Homo sapiens: one gene and its partners. The protein of the gene in region 1 purifies or fractionates together with the protein of each later gene. This does not show direct contact. Each region holds a gene or a part of one and is shown in the gene's direction. Other genes may lie near its edges.

Region 1 (2,430 bases):
TGGGTTGTTTCTTTTCTGATGAATGCTTAAGCTATGTAAAATAGGTGTTTTTATAAACCATATGTCTGTGGACCTCTTTTGAAACAATATTTCTTTGATTTTATCTTCTTAACTTAAAAAATTAAAAATGTATTCCATATTTAAACATTATGTGTTAGAATAAACTTCCAGATGTCACTAGTCATACACCCAATGTATGTTCCATATTGAGCTGTAAAATATGAATAAAATAGAACCAATTTATGGTTCTTGCTCCCAAGAGCCTTGGCTTTATTCTCCAGGCAGGAATATACCTAAACCACCAGTGGCAAAACAAACAAACAAATAAAAAACTAGTAAAAGCAATGTTTGTTGATATGTTTGCAGTGGAATCTGAAAGAAGCTGCAGACATTCCTTGCCTAATTGAATAAATTTATACTCTCAGTATCTACTATGAACTGGCATTCTACCAGAGTCAAGCAATATACTTTTGGGATATTAATGCACTGGGAAGACAAATCATTGGCTTGTCTTCTATAGCTAAATCATGTCACCTTGTGCTTAGCCTGCAGATCACGTTGGCAGAATAAGCTCCTTTGGCTTGCATGAATTTACAACGTTGATGAGACTGGGAGAACAGAATGAGAAATGGTGGTTTAGTAGATGTTTTTCATTAAAAAGCAGGCAAAGTCAGTCTATATAAAGCGTTATCTTATTTTTGATGTCATTTTTCACATTGAGAATGTAAATGACATTAAGAGCTCAAAATAGGGCTGACATGACAAGGAAAAGGATCAGATGTTTAGTTAAAAAAATTAATGTGTCCAGTTTCTTTTTAAAGGAAGTGCTATGAAGCATCTATAGAAAATGATTTGTAGTAAAAAAGTTTCACTAAATTGGGCCAGGCACGGTGGCTTACGCCTGTAATCCCAGCACTTTGGGAGGCTGAGGCAGGTGGATCACCTGAGGTCGGGAGTTCAAGACCAGCCTTACCAACATGGAGAAACCCCGTCTCTACTAAATATACAAAAATTAGCTGGTCATGGTGGCACATGCCTGTAATCCCAGCTACTTGGGAGGCTAAGGCAGGAGAATCGCTTGAACCCAGGAGGCGGAGGTTGCGGTGAGCCAAGATCGCGCCATTGCACTCCAGCCTGGGCAACAAGAGCAAAACTCCGTCTCAAAAAAAAAAAAAAAAAAAGTTTCACTAAATTATTTCCACAGATGCTCTGTTGTTTAAAAAAAAGAAAGAAAATGAACTGTGAGATATACTTATCTAAATACTAAATGTTATTATTAGTAGAGTTGAAAATCTGTGCGTATGTGTGATGTTACTTTTTGTCTACTTATTCTGTTTATTTTGTCTGTATGTCTACTCTTAGAAATAAGTCATAATGCGTTCTCATTTACCATAAGCTATATACCAAATCATGCTGAACTTTATTATTATTGTTTATTCTTATTTATTCTTTTAGTAGACATTTTTGCCATTCTGGTTTAATATTTTAGTACAAAAATGGAAGACAAGACATTAACTCTTGATACTATGAAGAGTTAATTGTGAAGAGCTAATGCAGACATTTATAAATGAACTAAAACTATTTAACCTTATGAAAGCCAAATGACTGCCTGTTCTTTCAGTTTTTAATACTGATGATTTAACCTCTATTAGGAACCTCCCTTCTAGTTCTTTGAAACTTATATAATTATCTACTTATTCATTCATTTGTTCATTTATCAATTTAAGAAAATATTGTTTATTCTGGAAGGTAAAATGCTAATTGGGCTCATTTTGATTGCCACATCTTTCAGAATTTCAAAAAGCACCCAATTTTTGGTATTTCCTGCTTCCCATGGGGACTGTTACTAACTAGAACCCAATCAATATTTGCCATGTTGAATTAAGGAATCTGAACCTGGTACCACACTTTGAAAAATCTGTCTCAGTTAAACTGACCACTTATATTTATGGTTCTCCTGCAACCGGCTCTACCTTAAATATACATTCATTGTCACTTTTCTCTGCTTGCAGATTCGCAGGAAAGCATTGACTGTTTTATACACTGAACATAATTATAATCAACATTTAATTGTTTTAATGCTATTACTTCCATATTTTAATAACTTGGAATCCTCTTATTGCCTTTGTATCATTTCTATTCTGATTATGAAATTTCCGATAAGATTTATCATTGATCATACGTCTCTTCATTAATATGTATTTAGGTAATCCAAAGATTACATAAAGCATCTTTCAACAAAATTATGAATTGGCTGGATCTATTTTGAGGTTTTGGAGACTTGGGGTTTGTACTGCGTCTTAAGTGAAGTCTCAGAGGCATCAGTCTCGGAGATCAGTGATCCATCTGACAGGGGGCTTGGTTATTGGGATCCTTTGTTTTCCTCTGCTCCTCTTCCACCTGCTCCTTGTTGCCAGCCTTGTTCATCCT
Region 2 (3,500 bases), on another chromosome or scaffold:
TAACTACAGAGTATTATCAAAACCAGGAAGTTGATGAACTACACAATACTATTAACTAGACTTACTGAAGTTTCACCAGTTTTATATTCACTTATTTTTTTCTGTGTCTTTATGAATGATTCTATGACATTTAATTACAAGTGTAGATTCCTGTAACTGCCCCCATAGTCAAGGTACAGAATTTCTTCATCACTCACAAAAGAACTCCTTCATACTCTCCCTTATGGTCACACCACCCTCTGTCCCTGACATCATTTTTCTGCACTCCACCTCTATAATTTTGTCATTTTGAGAATTTACAAAAGTGGAATCATGCAGTAAGGAACCTTTTGAGACTGGCTCTTTTTCACTCAGTTTAATGCCTTTAAGATCCATCCAGGTTGTTGTTTGTTTCTTTTTGTTGTTTTTCCACTTACCCCTTTTATTTATTCCATTGCCTATGTAAGACATAATACAGTTTATTTAACCGTTCTTTTTTTTTTTTTTTTTTTTTTTTTTTTTTTTTTTTTTTTTTTGAGACAGAGTCTCGCCCTGTCGCCTAGGCTGGAGTGCAATGGCACGATCTCGGCTCACTGCAACCTCCGCCTCCCAGGTTCAAGAGATTCTCCTGCCTCAGCCTCCTGAGTAGCTGGGATTACAGGCACACGCTGCCACACCCAGCTAATTTTTGTATTTTTAGTAGAGACGGGGCTTCACCGTGTTGGCCATGATGGTCTCCATCTCGACCTCCTGATCCTCCCACCTCGGCCTCCCAAAGTGCTGGGATTATAGGTGTGAGCCACCGCGCCTGGCATATTTAACCATTCTTGAACGACATTTGAGTTGTTTCAGTTTGGAGCTGTTATTACCCTTATTTTAAAATTTTCCTTAAAATATCAAAGTGTATTCCTTTTCTTACATGGTAAATACTCAAATGCTTTATTTATGTGTGCTAAAGCTACAGACTCTGGCACAACTAGTTTCTTCTCCCATTCTTTTTGGGACACAGAGGAAGGAAGAATTGCCCACAATGTCACCAAAACAGATCAGCTTCTTAAAATATTTTTCCACATTCCCTTCTGGTTCATCATAAATTCTGTTGTCTAGTTAGGAACAAATTATACATATACCTGATCATAATTTATTTTCTGCACATAAACTTATCAGACAAATAACAAGCAGGCTGATTTTATTTAAATCTACCAAGACATTTCTTTTTTTTTTTTTTTTTTTTTTGAGACAGTCTCGCTGCATCGCCCATGCTGGAGTGCAGTGGTGCGATCTTGGCTCACCGCAACCTCCGCCTCCCAGGTTCAAGCGATTCTCCTGCCTCAGCCTCCCAAGTAGCTGGGATTACAGACATGTGCCACCAAGCCCGGCTAACTTTGTATTTTTAGTAGAGACAGGGTTTCTCCATGTTGGTCAGGCTGGTCTCGAACTGTCAACCTCAGGTGATCTGCCCGCCTTGGCCTCCCAAAGTGCTGGGATTACAGGCGTAAGCCACCATGCCCAGCCCAAGACATAACTTTCTAACCTTTTTTGTGGCTACTGTACTACATGTGATTGCAAGGCATTGCAGGACCCTAAAGTGCTTTCTGGAGTTATAGCTAGAGATTGTTACATATGTTATAATTTTAGAGTGTATATATGTGTGTACACACACACACATACACATATATAAAACCTCTTTCCTTCAGTTTCCTGATATATAAAATGAGGACAGTCATATCTTGGTAATTTGAGTCCTATCCAACTCTAAAATTTCATATTTAGGGTTATTTGAAAATTAATTTCTATATGGTATATAATAAAAATTTTACCTAAATATAAAGTGCCTAAATACCTGATTACTCAGAAGCACTGAGAAGACATCTCCAAGTAAACATTAACAGTGAAACAAAAGATCACATTTACATATTCAAGAAATAGTAAATTGATAAATAATAGTAACGATTAATGTTTTATGTTTGATACACCTACTGTACTAATAAGTTAACCACAAACTATGGGATGCTTCATACCCTTAAACATTCTACTCCATAAGGTTTCAAGTCCACAGTTGTTACCACTGTTAAGCTGTTGTAGGAAATTGCCAAGCAATAAATTTACATTTTTTACAAGTCAATATAACTCTTGTGTTCTCTTGAAATTTCAGAAGCTTTTTATCTTTATTTAAGGGCATTTGTCAAAACAGGTCCCAATTGGAAATAAAAACCATTTGTCTCAGTAATGTATTTGTTTTCAATTTAACTAGATTGCTCTTAAACTTGGTGTGACTGCTAATGATGTAAAGAATGTCATTATCTGGGGAAACCATTCCTCGACTCAGTATCCAGATGTCAACCATGCCAAGGTGAAATTGCAAGGAAAGGAAGTTGGTGTTTATGAAGCTCTGAAAGATGACAGCTGGCTCAAGGGAGAATTTGTCACGGTAAGAAAAATCTGTGAGCCTTCTTAACACTGAGCGTAAAGAACTCTTGAGAGACTCTTAGGACAGAAAACCTTAAAGAGGGCAGGTCTTTCACAGTTGCTCTGATGACTGCATACTTTCGGGATCATAGTAAGCCAGTCATGATCTAGTGTGATCTGATGTGACAGCAGTTGAGATTTATACCAAGATCCATGTCTTTGTCTGACCTATGATAAACTTTGTATGGAGATACATAGTTTCCTTTTTCCAGAAGGATTGGTAAGGCTGACATTGGGTTGTTGCATGATTTTGGAGGGGAAACATTAAGCTCTGGTCATAGCTTTTCACCCCAAGGTCGACTTGGAATTAATGAAAACTTTGCTATCATGACCAAGTAATACTGCTGCCTTCACCTGCCCCCTTCCCAGACTGTGCAGCAGCGTGGCGCTGCTGTCATCAAGGCTCGAAAACTATCCAGTGCCATGTCTGCTGCAAAAGCCATCTGTGACCACGTCAGGGACATCTGGTTTGGAACCCCAGAGGTAAGGATTTAGTGATTTGCACAGGTCACTCTATTTTATTTTTGTTGCCTGATGATATAATATAAAAAGAATATAGCCTTAGCAGTCAGTCAGGTTAGGTTCATTTCTCAGCTCAGCTGCCTATTAACAAGTAAACTTCGGGGTTTGTTAGCCTTGACCTTTCTGAGCTGTTTTGTCATCTTTTACATGACATTACTATTATACACAGGGTTGTGAGGGTTAAAGGAGATTGCACATGGAAAACACCTGGCACAATGCCTGATACATAGTAGGGGTGAATTTTTTTCTTCTATGCCACAGCTTCCTCATCTGTAAAATGAGGATTAGGTTTCCCTGGCCTACTTCACATATGATATGGAAGCGTGGAATGAAATAATATCCATGAAAGTTACCTTGTCACCAGTACCTGGTGCTGATGATAGTTCCTTACACAGTAATGATGTTATGAACATAGTAAGAAAGGGTCACCTGGTTTAATTTTATTAGTTCATGTGTCAGTTGTGTAAACTAATCATCATGAGTATGTGAAACATTGTTATTTTCAGGGAGAGTTTGTGTCCATGGGTGTT
Region 3 (3,500 bases), on another chromosome or scaffold:
CTTTGAAAGCCTCCCTGATAAGGTAACATTTGAACAACTAACTGAAGGGGATTAAGCAGCCACATGGTTACCTAGAGAAAAACCCCTTTGGACAGAGAGAACAAGCGGAAAGGCCCAGTGGTAGACAGCCTGGCTGGCATGTTAATATCAGAGAACAGCACAGAGACTGGAATGGAATGATTGAGAGAAGAGTAGGAAAAGCTAAGATCAGAGAGGTAGCTGGGAGTCCAATGGAGCTGGGGCATGCATGTCACTGTAAGGACTGAGTGAGATAGGAAGTCACTAGAGAGTTTTGAACTCAGGAGTGACTTGGTCTGGCTTGTGTTAGCAAATGGACTCTGACTGCCTCATTGAGTGAGAAAGCTGTTACAGTGATCCAAGAGAGAAATGCCAGTGCATTGAACAAAGATGGGGGTGGTAGAAGCAGTAAAAAGTGATTGGACTCTGAATATATTTTGAAAGTAGAGCCAACATTATTTGTCAATAGGTTACATATGGGATATGTGAAAAAGAAAGGAGTCCAGGATAATGCTGTAGTTAGGATGGATGTTTATGTCTCCTTATACTTGGAATTTTCTAAGGCAGTATCTCCTATAGTAAATGAACAAGTTGCCAAGAGAAAAAAAAAAAAAGATATAGCTAAGAATGCAGAACATCTTTTTCTGAACACTCTTATTCTCCATTTCAGCTAGGTGCTCTGTTTTGTCCTGGGACAACCATGTTTGGTTCCAGGAAACCACAGATTTCCAGGCTAAGGCAATCGATCCTTATTTTCCAAGATTTTGTAGTACTGGAGATTTATTACTAATTCTGTTTTACTGCATTCTTTTGGCATAAAATCTCTGTGATCTTGCCCCTCTCTGTCTCCAGTCTCATCTCTTGCCACACAGTCTCTCTTACCTGCCTGGTCCTTAATGTCTTAGTTGGACTGGGTGGCTTATAAACAACAGAAATTTATTTCTCACTGTTCTGGAGGCAGCAAAGTCCAAGATAAGGCACCAGCAGATTTGGTGTCTGGTGGGGACATGCTTCTTCACGGATGGTGCCTTTTGCTGTGTCCTTACATGGTGGAAGGAGCAAGCTAACCCTCCTTTGTAAGGGCACTAATCCTGTTCCTGAGGGCTCTACCCTTCTGTCCTAATCACTTCCTAAAGGCCCCACCTCCTAATACCATCACCTTGGGGTTTACTATTTTAATATATGAATATGAGAGTGGGCACAAACATTCAGTCCACTATACTTAACAACATTGGCTTTTTCCTTGGCCCAGTTTGCTGTCCTGGCTCTTGAAGAAAGATAGAGGAATTACTGTAGATGTTCCAGAAACTCATTTCTAGTCCCTCTTACACTTTGACCAACTTCCTGGCATATGAATAATTCCAGCAAGGATTTCCACACCTATGGAGAATAAGAAAGGCACATTTCTCCTTTGCACAGTAGGTGAGCTTTCATTTCCACTCTGTCCCCAAATGTAATGGTGAGAGGCTGACTACTCTCTGGTTGTTCTTCTGACTTAGATTTAGCAAGTCATTCTACAACTCACCTCAGCAGAAAATATCTTAATGTCTTTTTGTTTCCAAGCAAGCCACCTTTAAGTAACAGCTCTTTTTCAATTTGAATTTTCAGGACTCCTTCTCAGTTCTTCACATGAGATTTAATCATTTAGGTATAACTGATTCCTCCATTAACCTATAGAGTTTAATATAGGTTCACAGGAATTCAACTGTTATTTCCTGAGTGACTTCTTTGCCAATAATTTTACTCAGATCATCTCTATTTATTATACCAATAAACTAAGCAATAAATAACATTGCCATATGCCTTTTCATATTTTTTGATTCTTAACAAACAGGAAGCCTTGGCTCAAGCTTTCTGGATTGACATCAAGCGCATGGATGACCCAGAATGTTACTTTAATTCTTTGCCAAAAGAGTTAGAAGTAAAAAGAGATCGGATGGTACGTTTACTTGAAAGTGTTGGCCTAAAACCCATAGTTCCTGATGGAGGATACTTCATCATCGCTGATGTGTCTTTGCTAGGTTTGTAAAGGCTTTTATTATTTCAACTATACGGAAACTTATGTGTGAAATTATATCAGAATTATGGAGAAAAGATTGGTGTCAAAGCCACAGCAGCATTTTATCTGTGGAGAAGGATGGATTTTTGCAATGTCTACATTTTCTATAATTATCTTTACTTTTAGGCCTTTTACCTTAAATGTGACCATTGTTAAATGGTTATGGAGTCAGTGTTGTTCTAGTTAGTCTATTAAACATAGGATTTGCTATCACTCTCTTCTGGTGTGTAATTTTAAAACACAAGTGTGTGAAATAATATTATATACTCAGTGTTCATTTGAGTAAAATTGTAGTTTCCTTTTTACTTAACAAAATGTACTATTTCATTAGAAAAATATCTAGAAATTTTGAAGCTATCAGGGAATATTTGCCATTTTAGAATGTACTGAAATAAAATAAATGGGAGAATAACACTTATTGAGGGTCTACTTTGTGCCACGTACTCAAAACACCCTTTTGAAGAAAACATTAGCTCCATTTTTGCAGGTAAAAAGATTTAGAAAGTTTTAAATAGCTTCCCTGAAGTCACACAGCTAGATTCTAAATAGTTCTGTTTCCAAAAAGCATTGTTTTTTATATTACCTAAAGCTGTTATATGTAATTCTGACATGCCATACAAATCTAAAGTTAGAAGCATGATAATGTGTCATATATAACTTTTCTTTTAAAAAAATTAGTAATAGTAAACCTTGAAGCCTAATTTATCATGACAGAAATTACAGCCATTCTAAATATAGTTTTAAATGTTTTAAAATTTTATTACAATGAAGTTATATGCCAATGAACTTGAAAAACTGAAGTGTTTTATTTATACTAAATTGTATAAAGCTGGAAAGAGTAAAGGAAATTTTCAATTTTATAGCAAAACATTGATCATATTTTTTAACTTTACATCCTTCACATAGGAGTTTGTTTTGTTTTGTTTTGTTTTGTTTTGTTTTGTTTTGTTTTGTTTTGTTTGAGGCAGGGTCTGGCCCTGTCACCCAGGCTGGAGTGCAGTGGCGTGATCTCAGCTCACTGCAACCTCTGCCTCCTGGGCTCAAGCCATCCTGCCACCTGAGTCTCCTGAGTAGCTGGGACCACAGGCATGCACCACCACACCTAGCTAATTTTTAAATTTTTTTTAGAGACGAGGTTTTGCCACATTTCCCAGGCTGGTCATGAATTCCTGAGCTTAATGAGTGATCCACCTGCCTCAGCCTCCCAAAGTGCTGGGATTACAGGCATGAGCCACTGGCTGAGTTCTTTCTTACTATAAGCATTTGATGCTAGCAATTTTTACTTGTAATAGTTCATTATCATCTTAGCAAATTTCAGAAAAGTAAGGTGTTATGATTTTCCTATAATTTGGTCTTCAGGTCTGTCTCTCTGGAAAGTGGCTGTAAACTCTAGCTGTTCCCTGATGGGGCTCCAGGGGAGGTC
Region 4 (3,500 bases), on another chromosome or scaffold:
AGGATGGGGGTGGGAGCAGTTGTGGCCGGGGATGGGCAAGGGTGGGTAGGGGGTGTTGACTGTAAGCAAAAGCCAGGTGGAAATATTGTAGGTTGATCTATCAATATTTCCCCCTAGTTTTCCTCATTGTGAACACAAGGACTTTGAAAAATTACCTGCTCTTAACATCATTCACTAGCCTAATCTTTCTTAAATATTAAATACAGAGCATGTGGTCAATTACCCAGACCTATTAACCATTAAAGCAGGATGCCCACTAAGGGAGTACTCAACTCCTACCAAAAGCTTAGTGAACACTGCTTAATTTCATCTGGCTCAAAAATTCAAGTTACGTTTGATTTCCGCCTATAGTTAGGAAATTTCAATACAATTTTTAAATTTTTTAGAGGGCATGCTTTCATATTCCTGAGATACACATATTTATATTCTTTTACATATCTGTCTGTAGAATCTCTCCTTGCCACTGCTTGTATCTTGTCCCCCTCTTGGGTGTATTTCTCTAGATCTATTTATATGTCTGTATTTCTGACTTCTTATATGGATTGGTTCTCTCTCCCTCTCCCCCTGGCATTAGTTATTCCATCTTCTTCCCTTCTGGGTTCCGGGAACTCCACAGATGTAAACACCACTGGTTAGTTGCCACAATAAAGAGACCACATCTGTGGTCCTCAGTTTGATCTGTTATTTTCTTTTCTTTCTTTTTTTTTTTTTGAGACAGGGTCTCACCCTGTCACCCAGACTGGAGTGCGGTGGCGCAATCACGGCTCCCTGCAGTCTCGACCTCCCTGGGCTCCAACAATTCTTCCACCTTAGCCTCCCAGGTAGCTGGGACTGCGGGTGCACACCAATATGCCTAGCTAATTTTTATATTCCTTTGCCATGTTGGACAGGCTGGTCTTGAGCTCATGGGCTCAAGCAGTCTGTCCACCTTGGCCTCCCAAAGTGCTGGTATATTTTCTCCTTTGTTTTCCATGAATAATAAGATTCTCTATATTCATTCTCAGATCTAAATTAATCTATGACTCCCATTTATCTTTATCTTAAACCAGAGTAGTTTTCTTTTTCATGGAAATATGAAAACTGTAATCTGGTTTGCTTTAATGAATTTTAATTAAATTATTGTTACAGAATAATGGGTTACAGTAGTAAAAACATTTTTTAAAGTTTTTAAAAATTAAAAAAACTTACCCTTTTTGTATTTAATTAGGAAAAGTAAAAGAATTAGCTAGTGTTTGAGTCTTTGCTTGAAGAGAAACATTTGTGATTGTATAGAATGATATAAGAGTATTTTTTAATGAAATAAATTCTTTCCTCAAGAAAGGATACTATGGACTTTTTCTTCCAGAAAGTTGCTCAAGACAGTTTCTTCTTTATCCATCACAACACCAGTTACACAAAAAAGGAAGATAGCATAGATTGCTAAATACGTCAATAACTTACTACTTACAGACATGCTTATTATAGGGGCACTAATATGTATCTGGTTTAATATTTCTTCCACTTTGTTCTCCAGGAGTCATGTTATTTTAGACTCCTGTGTTTCTCTCTCATCTTTTAAACAGTGCTCCCAGATGATAAACAGCCTTCCCTTCTAATTTAGGATATTTGAAATTTGTATGTCCCCTAACTGATATGAAAAATATATTTACAGTTGACCCTTGAACAACGCAGGGGTTTAAGGGCAATGACTCCATGCAGTTGAAAATCTGCATATAACTTTTGACTCCTCCAAAACATAACTACCAATAGGCTACTCTTGACCAGAAGCCTTACTGATAATATAGTCAATTAACACATATTTTATATTTTATATGTATTGTACACTATATTTTTACAATAAAGTAAACTAGAGAAAATAAAATGGTATTAGAAAGTCATGAGCAAGAGAAAATATATTTACCATTAAGTGGAAGTGGATCATCATATAGGTCTTCATCCTCATCTTCATGTTGCTTAGGCTGAGGAGAAGGAGGAAGAGGAGGGGTTGGTCTTGCTGTCTCACGGGAGGCAGAGGCAGAAGAAACTGTGCGTGTAAGTGAACCTGTGCAGTTCAAATCTATGTTGTTCAAGGATCAACGCTAATTAGGTTTTCATTTGATCTGTTGATATGTACGTGCTGCCACCCAAGTGATTCCTTTGGTCCTAGGATGTCTTGTAAAGCTTAAGTCAATTAGAAACTTTTCGGAGGAGGATACTGTTTGTCATAAGATGCCAAAAGCTCATAAGGAAAAGGTAAATTCAACATCACAGGTCAGTTGGGGAACAAAAGTCAAATCTTCTATCTCAATTGATAATGGCCCTACTGTTTGTGGTGAGATGTGGGTTGTTAAAGTGATAGGAAAAAGGACTCAAACTGGGGATTGTGAAACATCACAAGTTAAGAAGCAATTATTCTGTGACTTATGTATGATTTAGTCATAATAGACCCCTTTGATTTAGGCTGGAAAAATCTATTGCCTGGCTCTAGTGATTGTAGTAGAAATCATATTATCCACATAATTTACAAAGATTGTCAAACCTTTTATTACTTGACCTAGAAATATTCTTTAACTCCGTTGATCTCCCCATCCATTTTATTTTAAAAAATTAATTTTTAATTTTTTCTGTTGCCATAAAATACACATATAAGATTTGCTATCCTTGCCATTTTTAAGTATACAGTTCAGTGGTAATAAGTACATTTATATTCTTTATTTTTCCTTCACCCTATCTCCCTCCTGTCCTTTCCAGCCTCTGGTAACCACCAATCTACTCTCTATCCTTATGAGATCCACTTTTTTAGCTCCCACAGATGAGGGAGAACATGCAATATTTGTGTTTCTATACTTGGCTTATTTCACTTAACATAATGACCTCCATTTCTATCCATGTTGCTGCAAATGACAGGATTTTATTCCTTTTTTATGGTTGAATAATATTCCATTGTGTGTATACCACATTTTCCTTATCCATTCATCAGCTGATGGACACTTAGGTTGGTTCCATATTTTGGCTATTGTGAATAAGTGCCATAATAAACATGGAGGTGCAGATACTTCTTTGATATATTGATGTTTTTGTTTTGGATATATACTCAGCAGTGGAATTGCAGGATTATATGGTAGTTCTATTTTCAGTTTTTTGAGGAACCTCTGTACTGTTCTCCATAGTGGCTGTACCAATTTACATTTCCATTAAAGTGTATAAAGGTTCCCCTTTCTCTACCCTCATCAGCATCTGTTATCACTTGTCGTTTTGAAACTAGCCATTTTGAATATGGTTAGGTAATATCTCATTGTGGTTTTGAGGTTTTTCTGATTGCATTGGTAATATTGAACTTTTTTAATGCCTTTTGGCCGTTTTTATGTCTTCTTTTAGAAATGTCTGTTAAGATCTTTTGCCCAATTTTTAATGGGATTATTTGGGGGTTTTGCTATTGACTTGTTAATCCCTTGTCAGATGGGTAGTTCGCAAATATTTTCTCCTCTCCTGTAGGTTGTTCTAGTTCCTTGAAGTGCATT
Region 5 (3,500 bases), on another chromosome or scaffold:
TTCCGATCCCCTGTTTCCTTCTCTGACTGGAATCTGAAGCAAACACCCAATTTAGTACTTGAAGTTGGAGGAGTGGGTGTTGGGAGAAGGGGAAAAATTACCTTCCCTGGAGAGACAGAACTACATCACACCACAAACTAAATGAACCCCTTTATAACTTCTCACAGTAATATTAGAGGAAATTTCTGAACCTGAGCAAACACTCAGCATAGTTTTGTTATAAAGTAAACCCAAACCAAACACCCCAAACTGTCTAGTCATCTAGGAAAACTGGTGAAGTTTTTGGCTTTGAAAGTCTTGGCAAGAAAGGGCTTAGGCACAAACCATCACACTGCCTCTCTCATTATGTACTAATTAGAAATGGAACAAATTATTTTACAAGATAAACAAATGTTTATGAAGGGACTCAGAGGAAGCTGGAGGGCCAAAGTTCCCCTGGGATTTCTTCCTCCTAAGATTCTCTCTCCCCCATTCCTCTTGTCCCCATCCTAAGTACACACACATACACCACAATGCTTTCAGTCAGTCCTCTGAGTAGGGACTTACGTGGCATTGCTGAAACCCATGTATTCATTCCCAGCCATTTTGTTGAGATACTGCAACACCTGGAAGAGAAAAAGGGACATTGAGGCTCCACTTGGTTAAGAAGCTCTATTAATACCTCACAGGTTGACTAGCCCTTCTGAACTCAGGTCTTGTCAAGAGGCTTTCCTCTCTGAGGCCAGCAGATTTCCACATTTCTGGAAATAAGGCTTCTAGTATGGGCTGGTGCACCTGGTAGTGGGGTTAGAGAGCCACTGGGGCAGCTGGAGAGGACAGCATGCCATGGCGAAATGCAGCCAGGGGCTAAGTAGCAAGGGAACTTACAAAATCAAACTTCTCTGCTTTGTTACAGTCCATCTGCAGAGAAAGAGAGAGATGTCAGCATTCTAAGTGTAGGAGGATGACAGAGGGAAGGGTCAGAAGGATCTAGTGGAGTTCTAGTGTTAGTCTGGTCCTGCTGCTGCAAATGTGTTCAATTTTATAATGGCCCTTTTTTTATCCTTCTGAAAACACCGCACTTCCATTGGCTCCTCTCTTTCTCTTTCTTTTTTTTGAGACAGTCTTGCTTTGTCACCCTTGTCACCCAGGCTGGAGTGCAGTGGCACGATCATGGCTCACTGCAGCTTTGACCTCCCAGGCTCAAGCGATCCTCCCACTTCAGCCTCCAAGTAGCTCGGATTACAGGCATGAGCCAGCTTGCTGGGCCATCCCACTTCCATTCTCAATCCAAACCCTCATCCCTGACTCCCACGTTCATTTTCCTGACTCGAATCCTGTCTCCTAGCCCCACCCTATCCCTGATCTCCATCCCCATTCCTTACACCCCATGCTGGAGCTTTACTCCATCCCATTGGCCAGCATGATGGTTCATGCCTGTAATCTCAGCAATTTGGGGGGCTGAGGCAGGAGGATCGCTTGAGACCAGGGGTTTGAGACCAGCCTAGGCAACATAGGAGAGACCCTGCCTCAATTTTTTTTTTTTTTTTTTTTTGAGATGGAGTCTTGCTCTGTCGCCCAGGCTGGAGTGCAGTGGCAGGATCTCGGCTCAACTGCAAGCTCCGCCTCCCGGGTTCATACCATTCTCCTGCCTTAGCCTCCCGAGCAGCTGGGACCACAGGTGCCCACCACCAAGCCTGGCTAATTTTTTGTATTTTTAGTAGAGACGGGGTTTCACCGTGCTAGCCAGGATGGTCTCGATCTCCTGACCTCGTGATTTGCCCACCTCGGCCTCCCAAAGTGTTGGGATTACAGGCGTGAGCCACCGCGCCTGGCCTCTATATTTTTTAAAAAAGGTCCTACTTAGATGGGAATGGGATGAGGCAGGTCCCAGATACAGGTTTGTAGATGGAGCCATCACAGAACAAGGGGAGAGACTCAGCCTCTTTTCCTCACCCAGACTCATTGCTTACTCATGTGTCAACTACAGAGTCAATACCACAGGGACTCTGATACCTGAGTCCCTGAGGGGAGGATTCCTAACACCACCTTCCCCAGGAGGGGCTGTGATTGGCTCCAGGGTGTTGCTGCCCAGCTGCTCCCAGGTTCTTGCTCAAGCCCTGGGAGACCTACAGCTGATGGGCTAGTCTGACACCCTGTTCAAGGCCAACTCACAGTTCCAGGTGACGTGAATAACTGCCCTGGCCTGGCCATTCACCCTTGCCTGCAGGTGTCCCACACCCAGAAGTGGCCAATCAGTGCCCAATAGTGCTGTCCTCCCCTTGTCTCTGGCATTTGGCCCTTGGTCCTAGGCAGGGGTCAGGACCTGCTCACTTCTCTAAGGGTCAGAAAGCTCTAGGCTCTAGACTCATGGGTGGGGGCAGGGAACAGTACTGAGTGGGGATGACGGAGGTGGTGCAGTCTCTTATACTGACATTGTCAGCATAACATGTGGGTCCCTGCTGTGCCTCATGTGCCTTCTGGGGACCCTCAAAGGAATCAGAGCCCCACCAGTCTCCCTGGAGAGCTGAACAAATATGAGGGATACAGGAACACAGGAGCTTAGAGGATAATACCTATCAGAAGGTTAAGGTGGCACTGACCTTGATCAGGGAGCTGACAACAATGGCACCAGCATTGACCATGGGGTTATGGGGGATTCCTGGGGAAATACAAACCACCAAGAGTCTTAGCCACTGAACAAAGCCTCCCTGACAGCCCGCTCACTTTGTGGGTTAGACAAGAAAGACTGCTAGGGAGAAAGGCATGACAGGGCTAATCAGGAAGGGCAGAGAAACAAAAAAGGCTGGGAGATGGGGTGGGGATAAGGAGAAGGGGACAGCTGTAAGTACGGTCTGAGCCTTGGTAGTGCTCACCTTCCTCATTGAGGGAGAGCTTGTTGTAGCGCAGGCCACTTGGCTCTTTGCCCACAAACTTGTGCACGTAGTCAGTGCCTAGGGTGCTTATGGAGATGGCATAGGTGAGGGGCTTCACACAGGACTGCAGGCAGAAGGGGATCTTTGTGTGGCCCACAGAGTGCCTGGAGGCAGACAGATGCCATGAAAGGGGTTGGCCTGTGTTCGGCACCTGTGCCCTGCCTCCCCTTCCTCTTGCCCAGCATCTCACCGTTGACCATCCACAGTGCACAGGGAGACACCCCACAGGTCTGGGTTTGACTTGGCCAGCTGAGGGATGTAGGCTGCCACCTGGACATGAGTGGGTAGAGAAAAGGGAGATGGATGTGGAGAAGAGGAACAGAGTTGAGGTTGAGGGTCAAGAGAATCTTTTAGATAAAAGCTAAAATTCTGTCTTCTATAGGGCAGAGGGGTTCCCTCCTGCCTGTTGCTCCCAGAAATGCCCGAGCCTTAAGTCCTAGAAGGCCATATCTTTGTGTATCCGCAATCCTGTAGAGATAGCAGTAAAGCCAATGGAAGTTAAAAAAGGAGAATTCTGAGGCAACCTTCCCCTTTTGGTTCTTAGGCTCAGTTACCCTATAAATCCCTTTGAAGGCTCTATTCGAT
Region 6 (3,500 bases), on another chromosome or scaffold:
AATAGTGCCGCTGTGAACATCTGCAAAGAAGTTTTTTGGTGGACTTCAGTTTTCACTTCTCTTGGGTTACACTTAGGAGCAGAACTGCTGGGTCATGTGGTAACTTTATGTTGAATCTTTCAAGGAACGTTTCAAGGAACCTCAGACTGTTTTCCACAATGACTGTGTTTTACATTCCTTCCAGTGGGGTGTAAGGGTCATGGTTTCTTGTTTCTTCACGTATCTTGTAATTTTTTTATTGAAAGCTGAACATTTCAAATAATTTAATGCGATAACTTTGGAAACCAGATTCTCCCTCTGCCCCAGGATTCTGTTGTTACAGCTGCTTATTTGGTGACTTTTCGGAACTGACTTTGTAGACTCTTATTCTTTGATGTATGTGGCCACTGAAGTCTTTACTTGGTTAGCTTAGTGGTCAGCTAAGAACTGCATGGAGATTTCCCTAAACTAAGAACTCTCCCGGTCTTTGCTGAGGGCTCTGTGTGCGTTTGGAGGGGATGCCTTCCACACTCAACAGGCAGCAGACAGCTCTGCCCTAGCCTTCACTTCCTGCTTCTGCAGAGATCAAGGTCAGCTGGAGGTGAGGGTTCAGGGCCTCGTTGGTCCTTCCTGATGTGTGCACAGTGCTGTGCATGCGCCTGGCCTAGGTTCCCAGGAATATGCTGGAACCTTTCAAAGCTCCAGCAGACATCTCATACTTTGGCTTTTCCTTTGAAGCTTTTTGGGCAGTCTGTTGTTGGCTCTAACTGTTACCTATCCCCTCAGGCAGCTGTGAGAAGAAAACCTCAGACAAATGCCCCCAGAGAAAGGCTTTTAGCCCTGGCTGAGCTCCGGTGAAGTTGGATGAAGATGACCCTATAGTTGCTGACTCTGACTCTTCTTTGTGGGGGGGCTTTGAAAGACCCCAGCTGAGTTCTGCTCTCTCTGACACATCACTGTTCAGGGCTGCCGCTGAGGTGGGAGTGGGACCAGAGTGAGTTAAAACACCCTGGAGTTCCCATTCTCACTCAGCTTCAGCTGTTTTTCCTGACTTTAAATGTTCCCTGTGTTGCTGCAAGCCTGTGGTTAATTTCCATAATTCTGAATCTCCCAGTTCTTGCCAGTTTTATCGCTGTTTTTAACAGAGAGGTGAATAACTCCTGGCCCAGTCTTGTGGGTTGTGGGGGCAGAGTTGAGGAAGGGGCCCCGGGGTGAGGGGTTGGGGGGCAGCTGCAGCAGGGAAAGCAAATGGGCTGGGGGTGAGCAGAGAGGTTTGGCTGAGACCAGTCCCCACGGGTCTCCCAGGGAACCGTGTGCCGCCTGCTCCAAGCCTCTAAGTAGGCTGCAGCCAAGCTCTTGAAGACCACGGCTCTCTCGGCCTGGAGGCCACACCACCTCTGACTTAGACCCAGGGGCAGTCCGGTGGAGGCAGAGCAAGGGGAGGTTCTGCCACTTCTTGGATGTGACCCCAGCCTCCACTTCGTCCTGTGCTTACTGTGGAAACAGGGAAAGGAGCGGCCCCGAGGAGCACAAGCACCCCCAGTCCTTAGAGGCCGTGGGACTTGTCTGGCCGCCAGGCAGCCACAGCAGCCTCTAGAGGGGGCAGGTTGCTTATGCACAGAGGTGGGGCTCAGGGCTGCGTGACTTTGTAGGATGACACTGTGCAGTTGTTCAAGGCAGCTGCTGCAGACAGGGTCCCAGTGATCCCCTCTCCTGGCAGCTGGGCTCATGGTGGTTCTGCTTAAAGAAGGCCACAGCCAGCTTCCAGCAGCCCAGCGGTCATTGGGTTTCTCTGAGGCCCCAGGCAGAGCTGCACGTGCATCCGCACCAGGGAGCACTGCACAGGGGCCCTGGCCTGGCCCGGCCCTGCTCTGCACCTCACGGGCAGCTGCTGACGGCTCTTTGGGCTCACAGGGGATCCAGCAGGCGCTCCTGGTCCTTAGGAGGCAGGCAGCTCAGGGCTGCTTCGCTCTCCCTGCCACGCCCTCCCAGGGTGTCTGCCAAGGCTTGCTTGCGTTTTAGTCCCTTTGATTGCCAGACCTTTCGGTTTTCCTTGAGTAAACCTGAGAAATTCCTGACTTTATTTTTTTTTGCCAGTTGGAAGCATAAACTGTTTGAGATCCGCTTCCTCCACCAGCACATCTTGTTCTCATGGCCGCTAAGGGGACGTTCACCCTGGGCCTCCCACCTGCTTGGCCGCCCCTCTTCAGGTGACCTGTATGATTTCTGGGCTCAGAGCCCACCCGGGCCAGCCCTCGAGAGTGTGAAGTCCGTCCTGGCTTCAGCCAGGTGCCCTCAGAGCTGCCCCTCAGTCCCTGCCCACCTCAGCCTGTGGCACTTACCCCCTGTGCCTCCTCTCCTCTGGCTGGCCTTGTAGGCCACCCCTGCCGCGCAGACACACCTGAGCTCTGCTGGCCCTGATTTGCTGACCTGTTCTCTCCCCACTTCCTCTCTCTGAGTTTGGATCCCCCAGAACCCAGGTGTTGCTCCCTGGGGCTGCATGCCCCTGTCTGTTTGATGTGTCTGTCCAGAACCCGGGCAGACTTGAGGGGTCCCAGCTGTCTGCCTGTATGGCCCCTGCAGTTGCTGTACCCACCTCAGGCCCTGTATCCTGCTCTGAACCAGGGTCAAGGGGAGGGTCCTGGGGAACAGAGGGGAAAGGTACCCTGCGAGGGCACCGGGACCTGGAGTGCAGCAGCTTAGATGCAGACAGGCCACCTGCAGCCCCAAAGAGGCCACAGCCTGCAGACAAGGACTGGCAGCAGGGAAGCCCTGTGCATGTGTGCCCTGGGAAAGCTCTGCTTGATTCTGCAAAGCTGGCATCCTCTTTAAGGAAGCCCTAGGACAGGCCAAATGGAGCTCTTGTCCAAGGGGTCATTTCTGTCTTGACAGATCGAAGGTGCCTTGGAATATGGAATCACAAGTGATGACATCTTCTGGCTGAAGGAATCCCCTGGAAAAACGTAAGGCCTGCGCGTGCTTGGTGGGGTCCTCTTTTTGTTCACCAGAGTGAGCACTGGACCCTTAGAGCCTGTGCTGGTGCTGGGCTCCTGGGGCTTTCTTTCCGGTTTACCCAAAAGAAGGAAAAAAGGCCTGTTATTTGTGGCCAGGTGTGGTGGCTCATGCTTGTTAGCCTAGCACTTTGGGAGACTGAGCGGGAGGATTGCTTGAGGCCAGGAGTTCGAGATCAGCATCAGCCTGGGCAATATAGTGAGACCTCTACTCTACAAAAATCTGTTTTGGTTTTTTTTTTGGCTTTTTTTTTTAGGTGAATTCTCACTCTGTCCCCCAAACTGAATTGCAATGGCCCAATCTTGGCTCACTGCAATCCCTGCCTCCCAGGTTCAAGTGATTCTCCTGCTTCAGCCTCCAAAGTAGCTGAAATTACAGGCGCCCACCACCACATCTGGCTAATTTTTGTATTTTTAGTAGAAATGGGGTTTCACCATCTTGGTCAGGCTGGTCTTGAACTCCTGACCTCAGGTGATCCGCCCACCTCGTCCTCCTAAAGTGCTGGGATT
Region 7 (3,500 bases), on another chromosome or scaffold:
GCTGAGTGTTCACACTGAGCCAGTACCATGCCCACCTGGGTGTCTCGCCTTCTGGCATCACAGTCCCAGCCTCCCTCACTCCCAGTGCTGTTTCTCGTGACCGCAGCCGACCGTGCACTCTCTGTCTCCCACCTCACGCAGCGGATGACGGAGGCTTTGAGAGTGGCGCGTACAACAACAGCGCCATCGCCACCCCGCACCTGGACGCCTTGGCCCGCCGCAGCCTCCTCTTTCGCAATGCCTTCACCTCGGTCAGCAGCTGCTCTCCCAGCCGCGCCAGCCTCCTCACTGGCCTGCCCCAGGTGAGGTGCAAGGGGCGGGAGGAGGGGGTGGGCAGGGAGTAGACAGGCTGCGTCCGGGGCCCAGGCCTCTGCCACGTCTCCCATCCCTGGGATCCCGGGGGGTGTTGCCCACTTTCCCTCCCACCTCCAGGAGGAGGCACAGCCTATGGCTGTGAGTGCAGACTAGGGGCTCCGACTCACCCGCCAGCCCTGGCTGCACTGCTGTGTGTGGCCTTGAGCAAGTCACCTACCTCCTTGTGCCTCAGTTTCCTCATCTGTAAGATGGTGGGTGTAATGAGATGCCACTCTAGTTATGGAGATTGGCGGGGCTAATGCTTTGTATGTAAACACTTAGTGCGAGGCCTGGTGGGCTCACTCAGCGTGAACCGCCATGGCCACAGTGTCCCAGGAACGCCATGGTGCAGGGAGCGGACACCGTTAAGGCACACATGCTCCTATTTTACTGTGGTAAAATGCACAAACATCAACATTCCCATCTTAGCCATTTTTCAGCGCACAGTTCCGGGGCATTAAGTGCATTCACAGTGTTATGCAGCCATCACCACCATCCATCTCCAGAACTTTTCCATCTACCCAAACAGAAGCTCTGTCCCATGAAACACCAGCTCCACATTCTCCCTCCCCATCCCCTGTCTCTATGAATCTGACTGCTCCAGGGGCCACATAAGAGTGGAATCACACAGGACTAGTCCTTTTTTTTTTTGAGTTGGAGTCTCACTCTGTCACCCAGGCTGGAGTGCTGTGGTGCGATCGTGGCTCACTGCAGCCTCTGCCTCCCCGGTTCCAGCGAGTCTCCTGCCTCAGCCTCCCGAGTAGCTGGGATTACAGGTGCGCGCCACCACGCCTGTCTAATTTTTGTATTTTTAGTAGAGATGGGGTTTCATCATGTTGGTCAGGCTGGTTTCGAACTCCTGGCCTCAAGTGATCTGCCCGCCTCGACCTCCCAAAGTGCTGGGATTACAGGCGTGAGCCACCGAGCCCGGCCCCCCTTTTGTGTCCTTACTTCACTCAGCACAATGTCCTCAGGGTTAACCATATGCTGTAGCACGAGTCAGAACTTCCCTCCTCTTCAGGGCTGACTCATATTCCAGTGGATGGATGGGCCCCGTATTTTGCTTCTCCATATTCATCCGTCAGTGGGCACTTGGGTTGCTGCTACCCTTTGGCTGTTGTGAATAAAGCTGCTATGAACATGGGTGTTTAAGGACACTTGTTCTTTTAGTCTCACTCTGTTGCCCAGGCTGGAGTGCAGTGGTGTGATCTCGGCTCACTGCAACCTCCACCTCCCAGATTCAAGCCATTCTCCTACCTCGGCCTCCCGAGTAGCTGGGACTACAGGCGCCCGCCACCACGCCCAGCTAATTTTTGTATTTTTAGTAGAGACGAGGTTTCACCATGTTGGCCAGGCTGGTCTCCATCTCCTGACCTCGTGATCCACCTGCGTTGGCCTCCCAAAGTGCCGGGATTACAGGCGTGAGCCACCACGCCCGGCCGGCAGTCTGAGTTTTTAAAATGTACACATCTTTTACAATATAAAATAACTAGGTAATAAAACAAGGCCTGACCCTGTCTTTTTCACTCTGTAACGTGTGATCATAACAGAAGAGTTCAAAAGTACGGATACGCAAAAAGAACATCAAGGCCACCCTCGTGTCGGTGCACGCCCTGCAGGTCCCCTTCTTTCTGGCGAAGTCCTCCTTTCACGGGAGGGACCCATGGGCCTATCGGGCAGGGAGTGGGAGGTACAGCCAGTGTCTCTGGGTGCTGGCCACTCGAAGTCTAAATCAGGGCCCCGAGAAGGCCCCTGGGGATGGGAGGGCCGTGGGAGAACAGGTGCGGCAGGCGGGCTCTGGCTGTCCGGGGGCCCCGGACCTCATGCGCCTTTGCTGGCAGCATCAGAATGGGATGTACGGGCTGCACCAGGACGTGCACCACTTCAACTCCTTCGACAAGGTGCGGAGCCTGCCGCTGCTGCTCAGCCAAGCTGGTGTGCGCACAGGTGAGGACCCCGTGCCGAGGACAGGGCGTGGGGTGAGGCACAGAGGCCAGGCCAGAGCCCAGGAGGTTCGGCACCTTGTACCAAGGCACGCTCAGCCCCCGTGGCCTGCCCTTAGCTCTTGTCCCAAAGGATCTGGGCCTGGGTCTCCTGGCTGGGCTGTGTGTCCACGAGAACCCACAGTGCGCTTAGGGCCGAGAGGGGCAGAGAAGGGAGCAGAAAGGGTTGGGAGGCTGAAGGGACTCTGGCCAGGCCTCTCTTCCCGCCCAGGCATCATCGGGAAGAAGCACGTGGGGCCGGAGACCGTGTACCCGTTTGACTTTGCGTACACGGAGGAGAATGGCTCCGTCCTCCAGGTGGGGCGGAACATCACTAGAATTAAGCTGCTCGTCCGGAAATTCCTGCAGACTCAGGATGACCGGTATGAGTCGGGGCCCCTGCCCCTTCCCCCTGGCGGCCGGTACCAGAGCACAGCCCGGAGTCTTCCGGCGGGATGCATGGGCCCCCACGTGGCTCGAATGGGGGCAGGGGAGAAGGTTCCAGGTACTCGAGTTAGCCTGGTCAGAGGGAGAAGGGACGTGGGGAAACTGAGGCAGTGAGGGTCACAGGTTGACTTCCAGATACAGAGGAGGAGGCAGAGCCGAGGGGCTTCCTGTGCCACGTGGCAGTGGCCCCGCAGCCTTGGCAATGAGCCTCCTCCCGTGCAGGCCTTTCTTCCTCTACGTCGCCTTCCACGACCCCCACCGCTGTGGGCACTCCCAGCCCCAGTACGGAACCTTCTGTGAGAAGTTTGGCAACGGAGAGAGCGGCATGGGTCGTATCCCAGACTGGACCCCCCAGGCCTACGACCCACTGGACGTGCTGGTAGGACGGCCCCTCCTGTGTTTCAGGACGCCCGTCAGCCCTGGGTCGGGGACCCTGGCCTCCTACGAGCTTGCAGCCCTGGCCCTAGATGATGAAGAAAGAGGCTCTGACCAAATCGGATTCAGGTTCCCAACCTCGGGGCCACAGAGAGAACCGTAGAGAGACGGGGTGGTCCGGAGTGAGGCTGTTCTGGGCTAACCCATTTGCAGGAGGCCCCGGGGAGAAGGCTGGACACCGCTCCCCCGGTCTGTCTGTTCTAAGCCTGGCTCCCCACCGCCTGCCCCAGGTGCCTTACTTCGTCCCCAACACCCCGGCAGCCCGAGCCGACCTGGCCGCTC

Evidence for each region.
Region 2: the proteins of OXCT1 (region 1) and MDH1 fractionate together in Homo sapiens (co-fractionation; one large-scale study listed by BioGRID). This does not show direct contact.
Region 3: the proteins of OXCT1 (region 1) and KYAT3 fractionate together in Homo sapiens (co-fractionation; one large-scale study listed by BioGRID). This does not show direct contact.
Region 4: the proteins of OXCT1 (region 1) and AADAT fractionate together in Homo sapiens (co-fractionation; one large-scale study listed by BioGRID). This does not show direct contact.
Region 5: the proteins of OXCT1 (region 1) and SPRYD4 purify together in Homo sapiens (co-immunoprecipitation; one large-scale study listed by IntAct). This does not show direct contact.
Region 6: the proteins of OXCT1 (region 1) and TXNRD2 fractionate together in Homo sapiens (co-fractionation; one large-scale study listed by BioGRID). This does not show direct contact.
Region 7: the proteins of OXCT1 (region 1) and SGSH fractionate together in Homo sapiens (co-fractionation; one large-scale study listed by BioGRID). This does not show direct contact.

The regions. Positions count from the first base shown.
Region 1 is NC_000005.10:41,731,996-41,734,425, reverse strand, and holds part of OXCT1 (succinyl-CoA:3-ketoacid coenzyme A transferase 1, mitochondrial isoform 3 precursor), read left to right. Parts: intron 1-2,430. UniProt on the Homo sapiens protein: Key enzyme for ketone body catabolism.
Region 2 is NC_000002.12:63,602,463-63,605,962, forward strand, and holds part of MDH1 (malate dehydrogenase, cytoplasmic), read left to right. Parts: intron 1-2,233; coding exon 2,234-2,410; intron 2,411-2,817; coding exon 2,818-2,931; intron 2,932-3,476; coding exon 3,477-3,500. UniProt on the Homo sapiens protein: Catalyzes the reduction of aromatic alpha-keto acids in the presence of NADH. Plays essential roles in the malate-aspartate shuttle and the tricarboxylic acid cycle, important in mitochondrial NADH supply for oxidative phosphorylation.
Region 3 is NC_000001.11:88,947,630-88,951,129, reverse strand, and holds part of KYAT3 (kynurenine--oxoglutarate transaminase 3), read left to right. Parts: intron 1-1,852; coding exon 1,853-2,039; intron 2,040-3,500. UniProt on the Homo sapiens protein: Catalyzes the irreversible transamination of the L-tryptophan metabolite L-kynurenine to form kynurenic acid (KA), an intermediate in the tryptophan catabolic pathway which is also a broad spectrum antagonist of the three ionotropic excitatory amino acid receptors among others.
Region 4 is NC_000004.12:170,083,457-170,086,956, reverse strand, and holds part of AADAT (kynurenine/alpha-aminoadipate aminotransferase, mitochondrial), read left to right. Parts: intron 1-1,963; exon of another isoform or gene 1,964-2,208; coding exon of another isoform or gene 2,209-2,232; intron 2,233-3,500. UniProt on the Homo sapiens protein: Transaminase with broad substrate specificity. Has transaminase activity towards aminoadipate, kynurenine, methionine and glutamate. Shows activity also towards tryptophan, aspartate and hydroxykynurenine.
Region 5 is NC_000012.12:56,475,078-56,478,577, forward strand, and holds part of SPRYD4 (SPRY domain-containing protein 4), read left to right. Parts: coding exon of another isoform or gene 1-106; 3' UTR 107-546; coding exon of another isoform or gene 547-605; 3' UTR 606-867; coding exon of another isoform or gene 868-900; 3' UTR 901-2,582; coding exon of another isoform or gene 2,583-2,641; 3' UTR 2,642-2,855; coding exon of another isoform or gene 2,856-3,019; 3' UTR 3,020-3,105; coding exon of another isoform or gene 3,106-3,185; 3' UTR 3,186-3,500. Other genes in the region: GLS2 (glutaminase liver isoform, mitochondrial isoform 1 precursor), read right to left, coding at 1-33, 547-605, 868-900, 2,583-2,641, 2,856-3,019, 3,106-3,185.
Region 6 is NC_000022.11:19,910,819-19,914,318, reverse strand, and holds part of TXNRD2 (thioredoxin reductase 2, mitochondrial isoform 5 precursor), read left to right. Parts: intron 1-2,871; coding exon 2,872-2,942; intron 2,943-3,500. UniProt on the Homo sapiens protein: Involved in the control of reactive oxygen species levels and the regulation of mitochondrial redox homeostasis. Maintains thioredoxin in a reduced state. May play a role in redox-regulated cell signaling.
Region 7 is NC_000017.11:80,213,834-80,217,333, reverse strand, and holds part of SGSH (N-sulphoglucosamine sulphohydrolase isoform 1 precursor), read left to right. Parts: intron 1-141; coding exon 142-302; intron 303-2,195; coding exon 2,196-2,301; intron 2,302-2,568; coding exon 2,569-2,719; intron 2,720-3,005; coding exon 3,006-3,162; intron 3,163-3,448; coding exon 3,449-3,500. UniProt on the Homo sapiens protein: Catalyzes a step in lysosomal heparan sulfate degradation.